Linked DNA regions of Homo sapiens. The protein of the gene in region 1 interacts with the protein of each later gene in a pairwise test. Each region holds a gene or a part of one and is shown in the gene's direction. Other genes may lie near its edges.

Region 1 (11,473 bases):
GAGACGGAGTTTCTCTCTTGTTGCCCAAACTGGAGTGCAATGATGTGATTCGGCTCACTGCAACCTCCGCCTCCTGGGTTCAAGCGATTCTCCTGCCTCAGCCTCCCAAGTAGCTGGGATTACAGGCGCGCACCACCATGCCCGGCTAATTGTTTGTATTTTTAGTGGAAATGGGGTTTCACCATCTTGGCCAGGCTGGTCTTGAACTCCTGACCTCAGGTGATCCACCCACTTCGGCCTCCCAAAGTGCTGGGATTACAGGCGTGAGCCACCATGCCCAGCCCACAACGTCAGTTTTAATTTTGTATATTCCATTCCTAGTTTTCTTGAAATGTGTGTGTGTTTGCAGAATTACAGTATTAGTACATATACCATTTTTTACTGGGTACATTTTATCGTAAGTAAATTTTACCTCAATAAAGTTAAAATCACTTGTACACATACTATTTTATTATGCTTTATTTTACTTAATGCTTTCTAATGTTGCTATATAATTTTACTATAATACTGCATAATTTATCAATCTTACACACTATAATCATTCCCCTCTTGTTGGAAATTTAGGCTATTCCTAATATTTCACTATTGTAAATGACACTACAATAAATATCTTTGAGGTTGTATGTGCTTTATTTTGTTATTTCTTAGGGTAAATTTCTAGTTGTGAGATTAATTCCACTCTACATTTATAATGTCTGCTAAGTATGAAGGCAGTCTTTTACTATGGCCTTTTTAGGTCTGGGAAGAAGCAGAGAATACCATTTTACTTTTGTTTTGTAAATAGAATAAAATAATAAGATTTATGGTAATATTTTTCCCACTATAAAGTGCCCATTTTGTCTCTCTCTGCCCCCCCCCCCTTACCTTAAAAAGAAAAAAAGTATTAATCTTCAGTTTCATTTGCCTATAAATTAGATAAAGTGTTTGAGGCTGTTGGCAAATACCTTTCTGAGGAACAAAAAGGGTCTTCTAATATCCAGTAAGGTCTCTCTTTTTATTTTCCTGTGATTACTTTATTAGTAACCCCTACCTCACTCTGAAATTTTCATAACCAAATATGGAGGCTTGTTACAGAGTTTGTAGTATAAAGTCTGTGTGGGCTTAGAGATATTTTAAGTTAAGCCATGCCCTGAACAACTTTACTTGAGAAAATTCATTTCATTCTGAAATTTCAAGTCAAAATGTTATTCTCCTTTCACTATATTCCAAGTTCTTTTATTTTGTGCTGCCCCTATATTAGATGAGCTGTGTGGCTTGATAGCCATTGCAGACACAGTGAAGCCTGAAGCAGAACTGGCTATCCATATTCTGAAATCTATGGGCTTAGAAGTAGTTCTGATGACTGGAGACAACAGTAAAACAGCTAGATCTATTGCTTCTCAGGTAATTGATAGGGGTATGTGATAACTTCTAATTATTGATATACATTTTATATCTTGCCTTCAAATGCTAAGAAATTTACATTACCTACTATTTTCATTATCACTGAGTAGTCCTATCTGGTTCCTTCAAGAAAATTTACCATGCTTTGCTGGAAAGACTTTGGGCTTTGTGTGTTGCTGTTATACGTAAAAAGGTATTTGCTTAGTTCATGGGATGCTTGCGTGACACTGTACACCAATTTCTGTTGATGTGCCCTTTGAAATGTTGCTCATATTCTTTACCAGTGCTGCCAACCTAAGCTGGGCTCTCCTGATCTCATGCCTGAAACACAGCAATAGCTCCACACACATCCCTCTCTAGTCCATCCTAAATACCACCACCAATGGAACTATTTTCCTAATGCACCACTTTGACATACCATTTTTCTGCTCCTGACTCCCACATCTGCCTTATCTCTAAAATTTTTCAATCTTTTTAACTTTGGAATGCCTTCTCCCCTCTTCTAATAAATAATGCAAGTAATCTTTTAATACATTCTTTTGTTTCTTTTTTTTTTCTTGGGACGGAGTTTCGCTCTTGTTGCCCAGGCTGAAGTGCAGTGGCGCGATCTCGGCTCATCGCAACCTCCACCTCCTGGGTTCAAGCGATTCTCTTGCCTCAGCCTCCCGAGTAGCTAGGATTACATGCATACACCACCACGCCCGGCTAATTTTGTATTTTTAGTAGAGACAGGGTTTCTCCATGTTGGTCAAGCTGGTCGTGAACTTCGGACCTCAGGTGATCCGCCCGCCTCGGCCTCCCAAAGTGCTGGGATTACACGTGTGAGCCACCGCACCCGGCCTATTAACACCTTCTTATGTAAAAAATACAGAAGGATATAAAGTAAAAATGTCCTCTTTTCCCCATGCTCCCCATTCAGTCCTACTGCCCCTCACACTGCCACTTTTTCATATGCATATATGTGCATATACAGAGTACATATACAGTATAATTCTGGTCTTTTCAACATCAGATCATTTTGAACAGATTGTTCAGTAGTTTGCTTTTTTTACGTAACAGTATACTTTGGAGCTTCATCCATATCTGAACATAAAGTTATTTTGGCCGGGTTTGTTGGCTCACGCCTGTAATCCCAGCACTTTGGGAGGCTGAAGTGGGCAGATCACATGAGGTCGGGAGTTTGAGACCAGCCTGGCCAGCATGGTGAAACCTTGTCTCTACTAAAAATACAAAAATTAGCCGGGTGTGGTGGCGCATGCCTGTAATCCCAGCTACTCAGGAGGCTGAGGCAGGAGAATCGCTTGAACCAGGAGGCGGAGGTTGCAGTGAGCCGAGATGGTACCATTGCACTCCAGCCTGGGTGACAGAGCAAGACTCTGTCTCAAAAAAAAAAAAAAAAAAAAGTTACAAAGTTACTTTATTCTTTCTATACTGAATTCCATGGTATGGATGTATCATAATTTATTTAACCATTTCCCTAATGATGGACATTTGGGTGGTTTTGAAAATTTTCTTTTTGCAAACAAGGCAATAATAAACATCTTTGGACATGTATCTTTCTGTACATGTGCAAGCCTGTCCAAGATAGAGCTAGACATGGAATTGCTAGACCAAATGATGCTCACATTTTGATAGATGCTGCCAGATGCCCTCCAAAAAGAGTTACAATTTACACACCAGCCACTGGTGTATAAGAGAGCTCATTTCTCCACATCCTTGCTATCACTAGATATTATCAGTCTTTTAAAATGTGGACATCTTGTGGGTGAAAACTGATGGCTTGTTATTGCTCAGTTATGTTTCACGTACTCATTATTTTTTAAATGAATTGAGTTTATTTTCATCACATAGGTTGGCATTACTAAGGTGTTTGCTGAAGTTCTACCTTCTCACAAGGTTGCTAAAGTGAAGCAACTTCAAGAGGAGGGGAAACGGGTAGCAATGGTGGGAGATGGAATCAATGACTCCCCAGCTCTGGCAATGGCTAATGTGGGAATTGCTATTGGCACAGGCACAGATGTAGCCATTGAAGCAGCTGATGTGGTTTTGATAAGGGTAAGTGCCATGGCTTGACCTTTGAGGAGTATGAGACTGCCCTATGTGGTCAATGATAATGTCATAAAGTATATTGAGCATAACAATTCTGTCTTAAGTTCCATGCTATCAGCCATTAAGAGTTTAAGAATATGGAGTGGGATTATGGGAAGTCATGCTAATTTACCCCCTGACTTTCTCAACCCAGCTCATAAGCAAGTGAGAATTATAAGTTTCTGAAGTGAAGAAGAAGATTTAAGAATGGATTCGGAATAAAATGATCTTCAACAAATAGTTGCTGAGATTATTTTAAGTAGATTTAATCATAGTACCAGCATACACCCCTAAAAGTGTTTTCAGAACCCTGAGGAAAATTTTTGAAAAACACCTTCGGAAGCTGAGTCTAAGTTTTAGCATTATCTGAGATTTGTAATTAATTCACATATTACCCTAAGGTAGACGTAATCTTCAACATACACAGTATCAAATGTAAAAGTTACTGGTTAAGTTAGAGTCTCTTACTAATATCACAAATATTTCTGTTCTTAGAATGATCTTCTGGATGTAGTGGCAAGTATTGACTTATCAAGAAAGACAGTCAAGAGGATTCGGATAAATTTTGTCTTTGCTCTAATTTATAATCTGGTTGGAATTCCCATAGCTGCTGGTATGTGACTCTTAACTAGTACTGCTTTTTCCACTAAAGTTATTAGAGACCTAACATATTGGAAGCCTGTCTTCTTACTATTAGTTTTGAGCTTAGTTTTTGTTTGTAGCCTACTGGTATGGTGAGAGGTAATGTTAAAATCAATCATTTTAATTTTCAGTAATGTTTGTTATAGCTTAAGAATATATAAGCATTCTGACAGATTTATTTTTTTCCCTCCAACTTTTTTTTTTTTTTTTTTGAGACAGAGTCTCACTCTGTTGCCCAGGCTGGAGTGCAGTCATACAATCTCGGCTCACTGCAGCCTCCATCTCCTGGGTTCAAGCAGTTCTCCTGCCTCAGCCTCCTGAGTAACTGGGACTATAGGTGCCCGCCACAACGCCCAACTAATTTTTGTATTTTTAGTATAGACGGGGTTTCTCCATGTTGGCCAGGCTGGTCTCGAACTCCTGACTTCAGGTAATCCACCCACCTCGGCCTCCCAAAGTGTTGGGATTACAGCTGTGAGCCACCACTCCCAGCCTTCAACTTTGTATTTTGAAAAATTTCAAACTTGACACCTGTAATCCCAGCACTTTGGGAGGCTGAGGTGGGCGGATCACCTGAGGTTGGGAGTTCAAGACCAGCCTGACCAACATGGAGAAACCCCGTCTCTACTAAAAATACAAAATTAGCCGGGCGTGGTGGCACATGCATGTAATCCCAGCTACTCGGGAGACGGAGGCAGTAGACTCGCTTGAACCCAAGAGGTGGAGGTTGTGGTGAGCCAAGATCGCGCCATCGCACTTCAGCCTGGGCAACAAGAGCGAAACTCCGTCTCCAAAAAAAAAAAAAAAAAAAATTCATACCTCCAAAAACATTGAAAAAAATGGTACAATAAAAATCTGTATGCCTTTCACCTAAACTCACCAACTGATGGTATTTTGCCACATTGCTTCATCTCTTTCTGCATATATTTGCACAGAGATATGTATTTGTTTGCTTATTAATTTTTTTCTAAATAGATTTACCTTTAATCTGACTACCCAAACCCAACACTGTTTGCAAGATTAATTCATGGAGCAAATGATTTTTAAAGAATTATACAAGTATTTTCCTCTAGTCTTTTTTTTACTCTACATCAGTTTTTGTCTTGTTACATAGTTGTGATTGTAGCTTATGGAGAATTTTCTGCTCTTCACTTAATATTCTATTATAGTCAGCTGGTATTTTTTTTAGGTTGAGAGACCAGATGACAGAGAGAGTGAACAAAGCAATATAACTGAGAAAAAAGAATTTAGAGTTATTTAATAAGCATCTGAGAATCTCCTAAACTTAGGGACCTGGTAGGAGTTAGTAATGATGACATAAAAGAAATAAGTATTGTTTTCTTCTTGTTCTCTCTGGTTTGAGGGCCAAGGAAAGACAAGAAATGACATGAGAACAATTACAAAACTGTTTATCAGCAAGGACACACAAATACTGAGAGAACAAAGAACAAAAGAACAATCTAAGTCCAGTAAGATTAATTCATGGAGCAAGTGATTTTTAAATAATTATACAAGTAATATATGATCACCATAGAAAAAGTAGAAAAATATAAAGAAGCACATAAAAAGTTAAAAGTATGAGTCTATTTCATCCTCATCATGTGAGCAAACATTCTTATGTCTGTGAAAACCAAGTGTGGATGAGTTTGTAGAACATGAACTCCCATACGCTATTGGTTGGATTTTGAATCACTACAGCCACTTTGGAGAACAGCTGAGGAATATCCACGTAAAGTTGAAGATGTGCCCATGTTATGACCCAGTAGTTTCACCCCTAGGTATATACCCCACAGAAACTCTCAAACATGGACACGGGGAGACATGTACAAGAATGTTAACAGCAACACTCTGTTAGTGAAAAAAATGGCAACAACAAAAATCTCTACCACCAAGAGGATAAATGCTGAAGAAGTATCAAACAAAGAAATGATTTGTATGTATGTTAGAAACACATTAATAATCTGTTTAGTATTATCTACTCTAACTAATCCATACTTGTTTCTTAGGAGTTTTTATGCCCATTGGTTTGGTTTTGCAGCCCTGGATGGGATCTGCAGCAATGGCTGCTTCATCTGTTTCTGTAGTACTTTCTTCTCTCTTCCTTAAACTGTAAGTATGATAGCTTGCTCACATTTGTATTTTGTATTCCTGTTATCATCTAGTCATTCTTGGTAGGTTTTATTCTTGTATTGATCAATGATAAGCCCAAACCATTCTTAATGAGAATTATTATTAGCGGCCGGGCGTGGTGGCTCACACCTGTAATCCCAGCACTTTGGGAGGCCGAGGTGGGCAGATCACCTGAGGTCAGTAATTTGAGACCAGTCTGGCCAATATGGTGAAACCCTATGTCTACTAGAAATACAAAAATTAGCTGGGCATGGTGGTAGACACCTGTAATCTCAGCTACTCGGGAGGCTGAGGCAGGAGAATCACTTGAACCTGGGAGGTGGAGGTTGCAGTGAGCTGAGATCGTGCCACTGCACTCCAGCCTAGGCAACAGAGTGAGATTCCATCTCAAAAAAAGAAAAGAATTATTATTAGCTAACAGTAATAATTAGCTATGTAATTGTTACTTCGTGTACTTTATGCATAGCAACCACAAGCACTGAGTGGGATAAAATATAGTGCACTAATTCTGAGAAGTAGGGTTTCTGATGATATAACTCCACACAATTCGTTTCAAGCTATTTTCCTACCAGTGATCACCTTTATACATTTCATACCAAAACTAAGTGTGGATGAGCAAATCTTCTTTCTTTTCTGCATGTAGCGAGCATCTCATTTACTTTTGGTTATTTGAAACTAGCATACTTTTGCATATGTCCAGTTACAGGAAACCAACTTACGAGAGTTATGAACTGCCTGCCCGGAGCCAGATAGGACAGAAGAGTCCTTCAGAAATCAGCGTTCATGTTGGAATAGATGATACCTCAAGGAATTCTCCTAAACTGGGTTTGCTGGACCGGATTGTTAATTATAGCAGAGCCTCTATAAACTCACTACTGTCTGATAAACGCTCCCTAAACAGTGTTGTTACCAGTGAACCTGACAAGCACTCACTCCTGGTGGGAGACTTCAGGGAAGATGATGACACTGCATTATAAAAGGCCATGGAGAGTGCTGCCAGTTTAACTTGTCATGCACTGACACAGCATTCATGATGTTACCTTCACTTTTCAAAATATTGTAGAAGGATTTTTCTCATGCTCTTATATTAGGGATTCTATTTGAGTTGCGTTTATCTGTTGGCAAAAATATCTTTTTCAAGGCATCAGCTCTGAACCTAGCTTTATTTAAACTGAATTTCCAGTATATTTTTGTTTTCACTAACAACAGATAAGGTAGAGCAGTGAGGTTTACAACAAGCCCTACAATTAGAGATTGCTGAACTGCTGCTAAAGTGATTTTTTTTTTATTTGACCAAAAAAAAAAAGGCCCAAGAAGAAGAAAATGAAAAATTTGAAGATTTGAGAGCATGAAGATATTCATGCTTTTGAACTCAAAATATTGAAGATACTCTCAAGCCTGTATCCCTGCCCCACTGGGGAGCAATGACTTTCAAAGCACTGTGTATAAAACATCTAGTTTTAGAAGGGAAACAGTTGAAACTGTTTAAAAATAGATGTGCCTTATTTATTGCAGGCTTTCTTTCCCCCATTCTCCCTGCATCCTTGTCCTTGCAGGTGCTTTTTTAGATGCTCCAATATGTCTTCTTTTGTTATTTTCTTTCGAGCTAACCAAGTTTAGGTGGTTTTTCATTGATTAAAAATAACTGACAACTGTTCTAATATTTTGCTCCTTTTTAAATTTTGTAGCTCAAAAGACCTTAAAGGTCTGTAGGGTTCCCTGCCTCCCATCTTTCCACTGTTGTAAAAAGTATATCAAATTATTCCTTCAAGTTTCCTAGCTCTGTGCTCAGTTTCAGTTCACTCCTGCCAAGTTGGACTCTAAGTTATTCTTCATGTAGTCTGCTGATCTCAGTCTGGAAACTTAACATTATGAGCCTTTTCTGCTCAAAAAATTTTCAAAGATTAAAACTATTATACATATACAGGTCATATAAAATTACCTGGATTCACTAAATTTGTTTGTTGTTGTTGTTGTTGTTGTTGTTGTTGTTGAGACAGAGTCTTGTTTTGCAGCCCAGGCTGGAGTGCAGTGGCACCATCTTGGCTCACTGCAACCTCTGCCTACCGGATTCAAGGAATTCTCCCTGCCTCAGCCTCCTGAGTAGCTAGGATTACAGGTGCCTGCCACCACACCCGGCTAATTTTCATATTTTTCAGTAGAGACGGGGTTTCGCCATGTTGGCTAGCCTGGTCTTAAACTCCTAACCTCAGGTGATCCACCCGCCTTGGCCTCCCAAAGTGCTGGGATTACAGGTGTGAGCCTCCATGCCCAGCCTAAATTTGTATTTTTTGAATTGAGTATAATCACTTTGCTAGTATATATAATTTAATAGATTTTATTTATCTTTTAGTGTTTCAGATAACCTCTCAAAAAGACTTTAAAATAATGCTATTACACAAAGCTGCATTTACCAAAAAATACAGTAAAATCATAATACAGAAACTAAAATTTCCCTAGGTTATGACGCTTTTTAGCTAAATATATACTCTTCTCTAGTTTAAAACATTTGAACTTGCCTAGTTAGTGTGGTTGGCAAATTTAGGAGCTTGTTCCCATTGCCAAATGGATTTAGAAATTCCCTTGTGAGTGCCTGGTAGCTAATACACTGGTCAGAGATCTGGTACTTGTAAGACTATTTAAATTTCTTTGTTAGTTGCAAGATGGATTTCATATGCAGAATATGTAAATGAAGAGGACTCATAAGTAAATTCCTAACATTTTGTTCCCATTACCAGAAGCAAAGCTGCTGCTAACCCAACATCTGGCACATAGGATTTGTACTCGGTAAATGTTAGTTCTTTTCTCCCCTTGAGGTCAGTAATAAATACAAAAAAATCATTTTTCTAGAGCAGAGTCTTAAAATCAGGTGGGGGTAGGGGATGGAGTTCTTCCTTTCCTACCCCTTTTCTCTTTTATCCTTTCATATATACACATGCAAAGTTTACAACCTTATTCCATGCTGTCTTTCAGATTTAGAAAAGATCTAATTTCTGTCTCAGCTGTCTTAAAGAGAGAACTGAAGCTTTTGATGAAGGTGCTATTAATCTAGAAAGGCAAACCCATTTCACTGAAATATCAATGGGTTTGCATATCTAGGCCCTTTTTTTAGACCAATGCCTATGCCATCCTCCATGCTTTCAGTTTGAGTTTTATTATTTATTATTTTAATTCCAGTGGCCCATCTTATAATACAACTTGTTTCTTCTAGAAGACAGAGCTGATAGGGTAAATGTTGAAAAAAGAAGCATGCCTCCTTCTCCCTCCCACCCACCTCAAGCAGTTGAACACAGCCAGTTATTCTTCCATTATTATGTGTACCTTGGAGTCATCCTCTTGGTCTTGTATTCATATTGTGGGACAGTGGGAATAGCAGCTTGTAGTATTGAAATAATCAAAGAGATAATTTCAGCTCTTACAACAAGAACAGAAAACATGCTAATTAGAAAAAGTCCTGCTTTAAGTAATATGTAGCCACATTTGAATCCTCTACCACAAGTCTTTTTTGCAATCTTGAACTTTCATTAGCTTCAAAGAGAAGCTGTATTTACAGGAGAAAGAGGTGATTATGGAGGGAATCAAAAATACTGCTTTCAGTTAGTAGCTAGCTTTAAGTCAGGAGTTAGTAATGAGAAATTTTATAAATGTGTATTTCTGTGTATTCACATACATATATATATACACACATATATATGTACATACACATACATACATATTACCATACTGAAGGGAAATGGATTTATATTTGAATTTGATATTTGAATATTTGAAGTTCTCTATTTATATTTCATTTATCACTCTTCTGTATTCACTCAGCAACCATGCCCTTAGTCTGAAGATAACAAGGATACTTTAATATCCAGTGCCGGTTCAGACTCACCTATGTGGCACCTTAAACTTAAATATCCAAAGATGCCTTTTGAATTTCAAAGATTAAAACACAGCTAGAGTAGTAGTATTGTAGTCTCAAGATGTATGGTGTGTCATTTGTGAAAATAGAAACGTTATTTTTCCTAGTTTAGTATCAACATTTTAGAATGTCAAATTTGATGCCTTGTGAACAAGTAATTTTATATTGTGCTTTAATTTTTTAAAAAGTATTCTTTATTCATATGTATAGAATGCTTAAAATAGCACTGTAGACAAGATGTTTCCAAAACTTTAAGTGCGCATATCTTTTCTGTATACAGCTTAAAATCAAAAATGTATGTTAAGAGAATTTTTTCTATTACTTATGGATCATGCTTTAAAATGATTTTTCTTGATATTTATTTTACTCCATTTTGTTTTTTTCTCTGGGTGAGGCATCTGGTTACTGGTTATTTTAAAAAGAATAAAGACATTCCTGGAATCACTCCTTTTGGGTTTTTGTTTGTTTTGTTTCTTTTCTACATTTTTAAGTATTATTTTACAAAATAGAAAAAATATAGATTCATGCCAAATTATTACCTATTTTTACACTAACTTTCTGCAGTCCCTCCATCTGGTATGAGTAACCAGATAGAGCACAAAGCATGAGTTCTTGTTCTTCAGTTAAAAGAGCTTCTTTCACAGTGTTGATAACAAATGCCTTTTGTAGCCAAAACCAGGCGTCTCAACCTTACGTTTTTAGTTAAAGAAATGTTTAGCTAAACGTTGTTGAACATTGATTGTTTGGTACCGAAAACAGCAGTGGACGATGTTGTGCAATATCCATCTACTGTAGTTAAGATATTCAGTAGTTTGTTTTTCATAAGCATGTAATTGATCATATTTCTGCCAAGGATGTGCCTTCAACTTTATAATTATAGTGTTGTAAAATATTTTTGTCTGTCTCTTTTGTTAAATCATCCAACCCCCTCTATCAGCAGTTCTGAACTACCTTTGTTATATTTTTATTTTTTTCAACTTTTCATCTATGATGGAGGTGGATTATAGGCATCACTACACTTTCGGTTAGGATGGGAGGGAAGAAATCTATTTTCCTTCGGACTCCACTACACCTGCCATATCATTCAGTGAGGATGAGAAATAAAGGAAGGAATATTATTGTTCTGCTTTCCTTTGTAGTCTCTAATACATTCTTGATAGAATGTCTACTCCAAATGAGCTAAACAGAGAAAAGAGATTTTCTTGCCATTGGGGAGCCCTATACAGAGTGTTTGAAGTTCCCACCCAAGATACATTCCCATACCCGAACACTCCTTTTTGAGTTAAGGAAACCATTGTAAACTTGTGAGGAAAAACTAAT
Region 2 (11,275 bases), on another chromosome or scaffold:
GGCTCCTGCTCCATGAGGGACACTCAGCATTCTTTTCATAGATGTGAATTCCTGCCTGTTCCATGGAGGGGTTCAAGGGAAGGCTGGACAAGTGCCCAGTGGGAAAAATGCCATGGCATGGAGGCAAGCTCACGAGGGGGTTAGAATAGATGGTCTTCGGGACCCCTTTCAGGCTTGTGTTATCCTTCCTTTAAGACCTTGGAATTTGCTCTGTAGAGCAGCAGAGAGAGCATCTGCTTTGGACCCAACACCTGAGCTTGAATCCCACATCTGGCGCTTCCTTGCTGGGAAGCCCGGGACAAAGTCTCCTAACCTTCCTGGGTCTGTTTTCTTACCTGCAAATGGCAGGTACTGATACCTACTCTAATGGGATATTTATTTGTTAAATAAATATCATTTCGATAACCTCACTGAAAAACATTTAGGCCTGGAGTAGATAAAACCTTCTTCCCAACAGCACAAGCCCCACCTTTTATTTCAGTGTTTTCAGTTTTGTCTGTCTAAGCAAGATAAAGTTCCTATTGGTGGCTCACTGGTTCTAAGGAGTTTGTGCTAGGAGTTGGCAATGAACACTGTTGGTTGCCTACCCCACAACCATTTTTCTCTTCTTCCTTCCTAGGGAATTCCTGTTTGCTAAGGAATCTACTTCTCCCCATCAGAGCTCTCCCTTTAAACTAAAGAGTTTCTGCACAGCAAAAGAAACTACCATCAGAGTGAACAGGCAACCTACAAAATGGGAGAAAATTTTTGCAACCTACTCATCTGACAAAGGGCTAATATCCAGAATCTGCAATGAACTCAAACAAATTTACAAGAAAAAAACAACCCCATCAAAAAGTGGGCAAAGGACATGAACAGACACTTCTCAAAAGAAGACATTTATGCAGCCAACAGACACATGAAAAAATGCTCACCATCACTGGCCATCAGAGAAATGGAAATCAAAACCACAATGAGATACCATCTCACACCAGTTAGAATGGCAATCATTCAAAAGTCAGGAAACAACAGGTGCTGGAGAGGATGTGGAGAAATAGGAACACTTTTACACTGTTGGTGGGACTGTAAACTAGTTCAACCCTTGTGGAAATCAGTGTGGCGATTCCCCAGGGATCTAGAACTAGAAATACCATTTGACCCAGCCATCCCATTACTGGGTATATACCCAAAGGACTATAAATCATGCTGCTATAAAGACACATGCACACGTATGTTTATTGCAGCACTATTCACAATAGCAAAGACTTGGAACCAACCCAAATGTCCAACAAGGATAGACTGGATTAAGAAAATGTGGCACGTATACACCATGGAATACTATGCAGCCATAAAAAATGATGAGTTCATGTCCTTTGTAGGGACATGGATGAAATTGGAAATCATCATTCTCAGTAAACTATCGCAAGAACAAAAAACCAAACACCACATATTCTCACTCATAGGTGGGAATTGAACAGTGAGAACACATGGACACAGGAAGGGGAACATCACACTCTGGGGACTGTTGTGGGGTGGGGGGAGGGGGGAGGGATAGCTTTAGGAGATATACCTAATGCTAAATAACGAGTTAATGGGTGCAGCACACCAGCATGGCACATGTATACATATGTAACTAACCTGCACATTGTGCACACGTACCCTAAAACTTAAAGTATAATAAAAAAAAAAAAGAAGTCAAACCATTTCTAATCTAGCAATGGGCCTCATTTTCTCTAAAAGTGGTGGTCACTCCATTCCTTTTGCTAGTCTCTGGGTTAGGAATGAGCCTGTGATGCAATTTAACCAATAACACAAGGGGAGGTTTGGTGTGGGAAAACTTTAGATTAACGCTTTCCCATTGCCTCTGGAATGGTTGTTTGCAGACACGGGGCAACAAGAGAGACTTTCCAAATGTATGGCAGAGCCTGTAGGGAGGCAGCCTGTAGGGAGGCAGCCCGTACTCCTGACCTTGGCTGAACTTCAAGTCCCTCAAGTTAGGAAGATTTTCCTTATTCTTCTAGTCAGTTTGGGATCCAAAATATCAACTTTTCAAAGTTGCTGTGATGATTAGAGATCATGCATATAAAGCTCTTAGCACTGAGCCCAGCACACAGTAGGTACATAGTAAATGGTAGCTGTCAGTGTTACTGAGTTCAGTATCACACAGCCCTGCATAGAGGTAGAAGGCAAGGAAACATCTGTCCAGAGAGACTGCAGTTAGAGCCAGAGTCAGTGCCCCCCGCAGTCAAATCTGGAGAGGGCCAGAGAGAGCTTCCTAAAGAATTAGACTCTGAAAACAAGGCACGGCCCCAAACCAGAACCTTCATTGTCTGAGGTTGAAAAAGGCAGCTGGTACCAAGGCTCTCTCACCTGAGCCCCCACAGCAGCATGCCTAAGGGGCCACATGGGCAGCCATGCTTAGTGTAGCAGCCTTGAGGGCAGCTGGAGCAATGGCAGCCCACCACCCCCTGAGCCGCCCCTTCGTACCACTTCAAGCCTTGTGGAAGCCAGGACTGGTCCCAGGGTGAACACAGAGGGACCCTGAAAGTTTTGCCAGCTCCAAAGCATTCCTGTCACTCATTAGAGCCCTTCTGTGATCAAACTGCATTTAGGTACTCATTGTGTGACTTGGGAGATGTGACACCATCATTAATACATCAAACGTTTGACTACAAATCTATCCATATATAAAGTATGCCTGTTCCAGCTCCTTGGTGCCTGTGTGTGAACTCCTCCCTCTGCAGTGTGGTAAAGTTCCCCTATTCTCTGCCTGCTCTCCAGTTGTCTCTCCTCTCCCCACGCAAACCCCTAATGCTCTATCCATGTTCAATGTCGAGCACCGTTTATGTTGTTCTTCCTTTTCCTACTCCTTCTGCCTGCAATGCCCCTCCCTTCCTTGTACACTCAGAAGCTTCTTCTTATCCCTCAAGATTCAGCCTAGCTCTCCTTTGATGTGGGCCCTTTCCCCAGTCACCCTCCAGGTGGGAGTGACTACTCCCTTTGGTTAACCTAATGCCCATACACACTTCTGTTAACTAGAACACTTTCTAACACTTGTGTCCATTTTCCTTGTTTATATTGCCCACTAAACTATAAACTCCTAAGACCTGGGGCTGTATGATGGATGTTTGTGTTTGGCTGAGAGTAGTTGATTAATAAATGTTTGTTGGATGAATGGGTGGATGGATAAGAACCAGTGTGTATCTGTTGGGCTCTGGTAATGCAGAGATAAAAAGCCCTTTCCCTGCCCTCAAGGAACTCACTGTAGATGACAGAAAATTAATACAAAGGAACAATGACATGTGATGAGTCAGGGCGCAGTATGACATGTGAGCTCCATGGAGAGGCACCCATCCCATGGGGGAAAGAGGTGTGTGTTTTGGGGTACTTCCTAGAGGTGCTAACACACCATCCTGATCTGAGTCCCTTTGGGCCAGCAGGAGTCAGCCACACAGAAATAAGAGGAAGGGCACCCTGGGCACAGGGAGCAGCAGGTCCAAAGTGTGAGTGGCAGCAATGACGAAATGGCTCAGAGTCCACACAGTTGGAGCAAAGGAGAAATTGTTGCAGAACTTTCCCCTTAGTTCCGGTAAAACTGGGCTCTTGTCACACGACCAGGAAAGATTAGGCTTGCGGACACACAGAAGGGTGAGGAAAATGGAATTTATTGGATGAAAAGGAAAAAGGAAAAATAATTCTCAGCAAAGCAAGAGAGAGTCCTGATAGCAGGTTTCCCGGCTCACAGATTGAGTTCCAGGTCAGCACACAGGAACAGGAGAGGCCAGGCTCCTCCTCGCTGCAAACGGTGCAAACTTCCCAAAGTTCCATTCCGCCTTCCCAGTGCACAGGTGGGCATTATTCAGAAAGAATCAGTCAGGAAAAGGTGGGCCTCATCCAGGACCAGCAGTCCAATTTTTGTCTTTGTTTCTGGTATTTTTTGAGACAGAATTTTGCCCTTGTTGCCCAGGCTGGAGTGCAATGGCACGATCTTGGCTCACTGCAACCTTCGCCTCCTGGGTTCAAGTGATTCTCCTGCCTCAGCCTCCCAAGTAGCTGGGATTACAGGCGCCTGTCACCATGCCCAGCTAATTTTTTTTGTATTTTTAGTAGAGATAGGGTTTCACCATGTTGGCCAGGCTGGTCTTGAACTGCTGACCTCAGGTGATCCACCTGCCTTGGCCTCCCAAAGTACTAGGACAGCAGTCCAGTTTTTCAGCCTTCAGGTTGTTTTAGACTTGGAGGCAGGGTTTCACCAGGGACCCTTGGCTGCCTCCTGTCTCTAAAATGTTGGTGGGGAGGCTGGGATACGATGAACAAGGTAGGGAGGACCCATCACACAGGGCCACATCCCCACAGGGAAATCTGGATTTTGTCCTGGGGAAACATGGACTAGTTTTTTGTTTGTTTGTTTGTTTGTTTGTTTTTTGAGTTGGAGTCTTGCTCTGTCACCCAGGCTGGAGTGCAGTGGCACAATCTCCATTCACTGCAACCTCTGCCTCCCGGGTTCAAGAGAGTCTCCTGTTTCAGCCTCCCAAAGAGCTGGGACTACAGGCACACGCCACCACGCCCAGCTAATTTTTAAATTTTTAGTAGAGATGGGGTTTCACCATATTGGCCAGGCTGGTCTCAAACTCCTGACCTCATGATCTGCTCGCCTCAGCCTCCCAAAGTGCTGGGATTACAGGCATGAGCCACCACGCCCAGCCCATGGACTAGTTTTAAGAGGGAACAAGATAGGTTCTGTATTTTTAAAGATTGCCCCAGCAGCAGTGTGGAGTAGGCAGTGAGGCGAGGGTGGAGGTGCTACAAGAGGGAGTGAAGAACTAATGAGGGCTAGAGCAGCAGGAGCAGTCAGGTGTTCAGACCAGGGAGGCACTCAGGAGGCAAACTTGGTAGGGTTTGGCCACTATGCATAAGTGAAAGCAGAGGCCAGCACAGATGCCTGCCAGGTTTCCGCCCTGGCCGAAAAGGTACATGAAGGTGCATGCAGGCTCAATGAGCAGGTATGGAGGAAAGAGGGTGGCTTCAGGGGAGATTCAGTTTTGGCTGCCTAGAGGCTGAGAGGCCTAAGGAATCCCCAGGTGGGTCTTTTCAGTAGGCAATGAGATAGCCTTCCCTGAAGCTTAGGAGAGAGGTCCAGATAAGGAAAAACGTGATGCTCATCAGTAAAAAGCTGACAGCTGGAGTCATGTGTGGAGCTACGACCTCTCAAGGAGTGGGTGTGTACACAATGAGAAGATCAAGCCCCAAGATAGACCATATGTGTAGGCAAAATTCTTAACAAAGACACTGAGACAATATCCAATAGAAAGAGCAAAAAGATCATGCTGCAATGGGCAGTGGGAAGAGAACTTCCAGAGGCCTGCAGTGATCTACAAGGTCAAACCCTGCACAGTGGGTAAGGAAAAACCCTGAAGAATGTTCGTTTGTGGCCACATTTTTTGCAGCCCTCATCAGCCTGTGAGTACAAATGAAGTCACATTGGCCGGGCACGGTGGCTCACGCCTATAATCCCAGCACTTTGGGAGGCTGAGGTGGGCAGATCACGAGGTCAGGAGATCGAGACCATCCTGGCTAACACGGTGAAACCCCGTCTCTACTAAAAATACAAAAAATTAGCCGGGTATGGTGGCGGGTGCCTGTAGTCTCAGCTACTCAGGAGGCTGAGGCAGGAGAATGGTGTGAACCCGGGAGGCGGAGCTTGCAGTGAGCAGAGATCGTGCCACTGCACTCCAGCCTGGGCAACAGAGTGAGACTCCGTCTCAAAAAAAAAAAAAAAAAAAAAAAGAGTAACCACACATATTTCACTAGCTTGTTGCCAACCATCTGTAAAGCAGGACTGATTCTCCCCTAAAAAATGCCCTCACTTCCCACCCTCCAAGGTGTATTTTCTGAGAGTGCCTGGGAGTGTCTCACACAAGCCAAAGGAGAGTCCACACGTGTTAGTCCACACGCACACCCTCTTTCCATCCACAGCACTTGACGCATCTGCAGTCCCCATGGCGGCTTTCCATTGAGATGCCCTAAGGTCCATGCTGGGTTTCAGCTCCTGCTGTACAATGCAGCAGAGGCTTCTATGCTTGTCATTTTTCACTGAGTTGAAGCCACAGCATTTTCTGAGAAATGGAGAGGACACCCGTTCTTTGCCATCTCTTTGTCTCCCATTTTCCACATGGTGCCTCACAAAAAAATTGCCTTTAGCTTGTGCCTTATGGCCATCTGTCCTAAGGCTTCAGACACCAGGCAGTCCCCGGGACTGAGTGAGAGGCAGACAATAGTCTCCCTGGATCCCAGCCTCTTGGGGCAGGTGACTAATTTGCAAAAGGTCAGGATACCTAGCTAAATGGTCATTTGGTGACATAGAGGCCATGATTAGTGTCTGCCAACAATTCAGCAGAATGGTTGACAAGGTCAGATAACAACAAAATGAGAGAATGGAGGTGAGAAAGGTACAGACAGTAAATTTCATGAAAGGGCAGAGGCAGGAAAGCAGGAAATGGGGAGTGGTGGTGGTGGTGGTGGCTTTTAACTTGAACACAGTGGCAGGCTGAGGCACCAGGAAGGGAGGAGCCAACAACAGACCGGAGAAGAGAAAGGCTCTGAGTGAGTAGCAGGTGCAAGTCGTGTGGATAAACCTCAGGCTGAGGGAACTTAAGGCAACAGCCTGAGGGCCCTGAAACAGACCCTGGACCTCCTGGCAGGGGCCTCTGGAAGGAGCCTGGCCACAGGGTTCTGAGGTAAAAGAATGAAAAAAGAGAGGAGGCTCAGACTCTGTGGCAGAGCCTACTTTGGAGGGAAGTGGGAAGTGGGAAGTCCGGAGCCCTGACCACGTGAGGGGCCTCCCAGCCCTGCCACATCCTTTTCTCTGGACAGAGCTGTCACTTAGCTCCCCCTCCGTGACTCAGAATCTGGCTTTCTCATTTTGCCATTTTAATTCTAGTAACGATGAGAGTCACAGTAAAAAGCTGCTTCTGGGAGTGGATTTTCTTCCCTTCCCTTGATCGCAGTATGCTTGGGATTCCTCTTACGTGGCAGTCGTGGTGTCCAGCTCTGGCCTTGGCCCCGCCTCTTTGAAGATACTCTGGTTTCACCATAAAACTTCCTGGGGAAAGGATGATTCACGTTTAAAGGACATAGTTTTTCCTTGATTTGTTTATTTAAGCTACCATACACTAGAGGGGGCCGGAACTAGACCCAGGAGTAGAGGACTTTGCTTTGCGGGATAAGGAGAATGGGCACCCTGGGGAAGAGCGAAAGATTTCCTACTGTTACAACCCGTGTCTTATAACACTTGAAGTGAATGTGGTGTCTGAGTTACAACACTACTTCCCCTCACAAACAGTTAAAAGCAGAGGGTCACAAACATAGGCTCAACCAGAAAAAAAGATTCTCATTTCATCTGTAGTTTTGTATCAAGGATTGTGTTGGAATTTGCCTCCATATTAAACTGCTGTTCAAGGGTTACCAACTCAAATGGTTATGGGGTGAAGCCGGTGTCTCAGGCATGGGCCTGTCGTTGGGACCTGTGGCAAACCAAAGCCACTACTTGCCCTATACAAAGGGGGCAACAGCTGTCAGCCCCAGCAGCTTCCACTAAAAGGTGCAAGCTCTGTATTGCCCGACCTGACTTTTCAGAGAGAAGTTTTAAGTCCGAATTGTTTTGTGAGACCTCCAGATTTTTAAATACTGAGAATGAATTCCATTAAAAAGATCACAACAACAAACACCCACCATACAGTCCAAGCAAAATGCTGTGAGAGCAACCTTCATGAGGAGTGCAAAGTCACAGTTTCAATTTCACTTCTTCTAAAGAGATTTCCAAGTGTTCTGTTTCTTAAGTGATTCTGTTTGCATTTTAAAATACAACTGTATCTCCTAGAGGGAAAACAAGAATTTGCTCTAAGAAGTCACTGCCTCCTCAGCCCCTTTGTGAGTAAGCACTTTATGCTTCCCCAGAGGTGACTAAACTCTGATCATTGCCAATGGGCAGGCACTCCCCAAATGTCCAAGGACAACAAAGATACCCAGAGTGTCTTTCATAGCTACCAATGATTAAATAGCAAGTATTGCATTCCTGGGCATTGCTAACTAGTGAAGTATACCAGATGGAAATGTCTTCGAAGCTGTCCCTTTAAAACTCGAGCAAGCTACCAGGCAAACTCCGCCTCCAGGGAGGTTCCTTATTAAATAGGAGCCAACTGGCTGGGTCGGGGCTCAATACCCCAAGCAATACCTGCAACTGAGGATTCTTCCCGGGGAGACCGCAGCCCATCGGCATGGCTCAAGAGTTTGTGAACTGCAAAATCCAGCCTGGGAAGGTGGTTGTGTTCATCAAGCCCACCTGCCCGTACTGCAGGAGGGCCCAAGAGATCCTCAGTCAATTGCCCATCAAACAAGGGCTTCTGGAATTTGTCGATATCACAGCCACCAACCACACTAACGAGATTCAAGATTATTTGCAACAGCTCACGGGAGCAAGAACGGTGAGTTTCATTTTAAACGGCTAGGGAAAGGCTCCCGGATTGCCTTTTCTTGTCAGAGCTGTGCCTTTCTTTAGGATAAGGCTGCGGCTCCGTACTTCAAGGCGTCCAGAGGGCTGTGCGGGGCGGGGGGTGTGGGGGAGGGCGCCTTAGAGAGGATCTCGGTCACTTGAATGAGCGGCGGCACTGCAGCCAAAGGTCTTCACGGGGCAGAAGAGGGAGTACAGCTGATGTCTGCTGTGCGGCAGGGTAAGTGGGACCAGCAGCTTGCCGGTGAGTCCCTGGGGAATTATCTAGAGTCTTTGTTTTAAGCACTGCCAGGAAATGACAGTTTTCAGTTGGCAGGGCTGGAGGTGGAAGCTGGGGTGGAGGGCCGGGTGTGATGTGTTTGTTATTTAACATGAGATTCATGTTCTTCATTCTTTTCTCTAGGCTTTCTTTTTCTAATTTGCTCATTCTTCCTTATCTAATTCCTCCCACTGGAAAAATCTAATGTACCGTTATCTGCCCCTTGTTCTAAATTAATTATGGATGTTTCCAGGCCCCACATTGTAGGGAATCATAGCCTGGAGTTCTGGCCTGGCTCTTATAATGGCTGGCTGTGTGATCCTGGGCAAGTCACCACCCCAGTAGTCCTCAAAGATCCCAGCTGCAAGACCAGATTAGGTGACCTCAGAGTCCCATTTGCTACGAATAGACTGTGGGACCCTCTAAAAATTGCTCTCCTCCATCCGAAAGACTTCCCTCTCTTCAGCATCCTTGGCTTTGCGTCCTGGGCTTCAGGAGGGATGCCAGCCACATCACCTGTATCAGTTCTGCTGTGAGGTGGGATGAGAAATGTCCCACCAGCTCAGCTAAGTTCTCTTTTACGATGCACGAATTCTACAGCACAGTGTTAGGCCAAGCACATATCCTATTTCAGTTTTAGTTTGACTTACAAGGTTGTCTCTGGGTTCTGAGTATAAAGCATTGGAGGTTGTTTCTCTCCCCTTCTCTCTAATAAGAAGTCAGCATTTTGGTGCAGAAAGGGGGCTTAGTGTGTTATCCTACTGCTGTGTGCTGAGGTCCTGGAGTATACACAATGACGAGAGAAGCTCTTGCTGCCTAGTGGGACCACCAGCTGCATAGGATGCCCAGGCCCTGAGAGGTGTAAAGGGCAGTGCAAACACTACTACGGGCCCCACTGTGGCTGCCACCCTGAGGACCTTTTAGCCATTGGTTCCCAAACTTTGCTGCACATTAGGATCACCTAGAGAGCTTTTAAAACAATCCTTATGCCCAAATTATGCCCCTCAATAACTAAATCACAATGTCAGAGGTGGGAGCCAAGCATTAGTTTTGTTTGTTCGTTTGTTTTGAGACAGTTTCATTCTTGTCACCCAGGCTGGAGTGCAATGGTGCAATCTTGGCTCACTGCAACCTCTGCCTCCTGGGTTCTCCTCAACCTCCCAAGTAGCTGGGATTACAGGCGCCCACCACCATGCCCAGCTAATTTTTGTATTTTTAGTAGAGACGGGGTTTCACCATGTTGGCCAGGCTGGTGTCGAACTCCTGACCTCAGGCGATCCACCTACCTCGGCCTCCCAAAGTGCTGGGATTAAACGGGTGAGCCACCACACCTGGGATTTTTATTTGGAAAAATCCCTTGGGGATTCCAATGTGCAACACAATTGGGATTATTGTTCTCAGCCCAACAGCATCTATTTTCCAGGAGGTAAAGCAAACCTCTTCATGTGTTCATTTAACAATTGCTTTTTTTTTTTTTTTGAGATGGAATTTCGCTCTTGTCGCCCAGGCTGGAGTGCAGTGGTGTGATTTTGGCTTACTGCAACCTCCACCGCCCAGGTTCAAGCAATCAAGTAGCTGGAATTACGGGCACCTGCCACCACACCTAGCTAATTTTTGTATTTTTATTAGAGATGGGGTTTCACCATGCTGGCCAACCTGGTCTCGAACTCCTGACCTCAGGTGATCCACCCACCTCAGCCTCCCAAAGTGCAGGTGTGAGCTACCACACCTGGTCAACAATTGCTTTTTCATTTCTTTGTAGAACAACAATATTTCTTGTAGTAATCTTTTAAGGTTTTTTTTTTTTTTTTTTTTTTTAAGAGACAGAGTCTTGCTCTGTCACCCAGGCTAGAGTGCAGTGGTGCAATGATAGCTGACTGCAGCCTCGAACTCCTGGGCTTAAGTGACCCTCCCACCTCAGCCTCCCGTGGCTGGGACTACAGGCATGAGCCATCATACCCAGCTAATTTTTTAAGTTTTTGTACAGATGGGGGTCTTGTTATGTTACCCAGGCTGGTCTTGAACTCCTGGCCTCAAGCTATCCTCCCACCTCAGCTTCCCAGAGTGCTGGGATTACAGATGTGATCCACCTCAACAAGCCTGTTTTTCATTTTTAGAAAAATGTTTTTCACAGATTCTTGAATTCTGAGTGCATTCCTCCTAGGGGAAGAACAAGCCTTTTAAAGCTGCATGTTTGATCCCCAACAGGGAAGTGTTTGTATTCAAAGGGTCTGAAAGCTCCCGAGGGTTTTTTTTTTTTTTTTTTTTTTTTTGAGACGGAGTCTCCCTCTGTGCCCAGGCTGGAGTGCAATGGCGCAATCTCAGCTCACTGCAAGCTCCACCTCCCGGGTTCACGCTATTCTCCTGTCTCAGCCTCTCGAGTAGCTGGGACTACAGGCGTCTGCCACCATGCCTGGCTAATTTTTTGTATGTTTAGTAGAGACGGGTTTTCACTGTGTTAGCCAGGATGGTCTCAATCTCCTGACCTCGTGATCCACCCGCCTCAGCCTCCCAAAGTGCTGGGATTA

Evidence for each region.
Region 2: the proteins of ATP7A (region 1) and GLRX interact in a two-hybrid assay, tested with the Homo sapiens proteins (one study listed by BioGRID).

The regions. Positions count from the first base shown.
Region 1 is NC_000023.11:78,039,351-78,050,823, forward strand, and holds the end of ATP7A (copper-transporting ATPase 1), read left to right. Parts: intron 1-1,240; coding exon 1,241-1,383; intron 1,384-3,234; coding exon 3,235-3,438; intron 3,439-3,966; coding exon 3,967-4,084; intron 4,085-6,119; coding exon 6,120-6,222; intron 6,223-6,943; coding exon 6,944-7,220; 3' UTR 7,221-11,045; downstream 11,046-11,473. UniProt on the Homo sapiens protein: ATP-driven copper (Cu(+)) ion pump that plays an important role in intracellular copper ion homeostasis.
Region 2 is NC_000005.10:95,819,643-95,830,917, reverse strand, and holds the start of GLRX (glutaredoxin-1), read left to right. Parts: upstream 1-8,191; 5' UTR 8,192-8,255; coding exon 8,256-8,462; intron 8,463-11,275. UniProt on the Homo sapiens protein: Has a glutathione-disulfide oxidoreductase activity in the presence of NADPH and glutathione reductase. Reduces low molecular weight disulfides and proteins.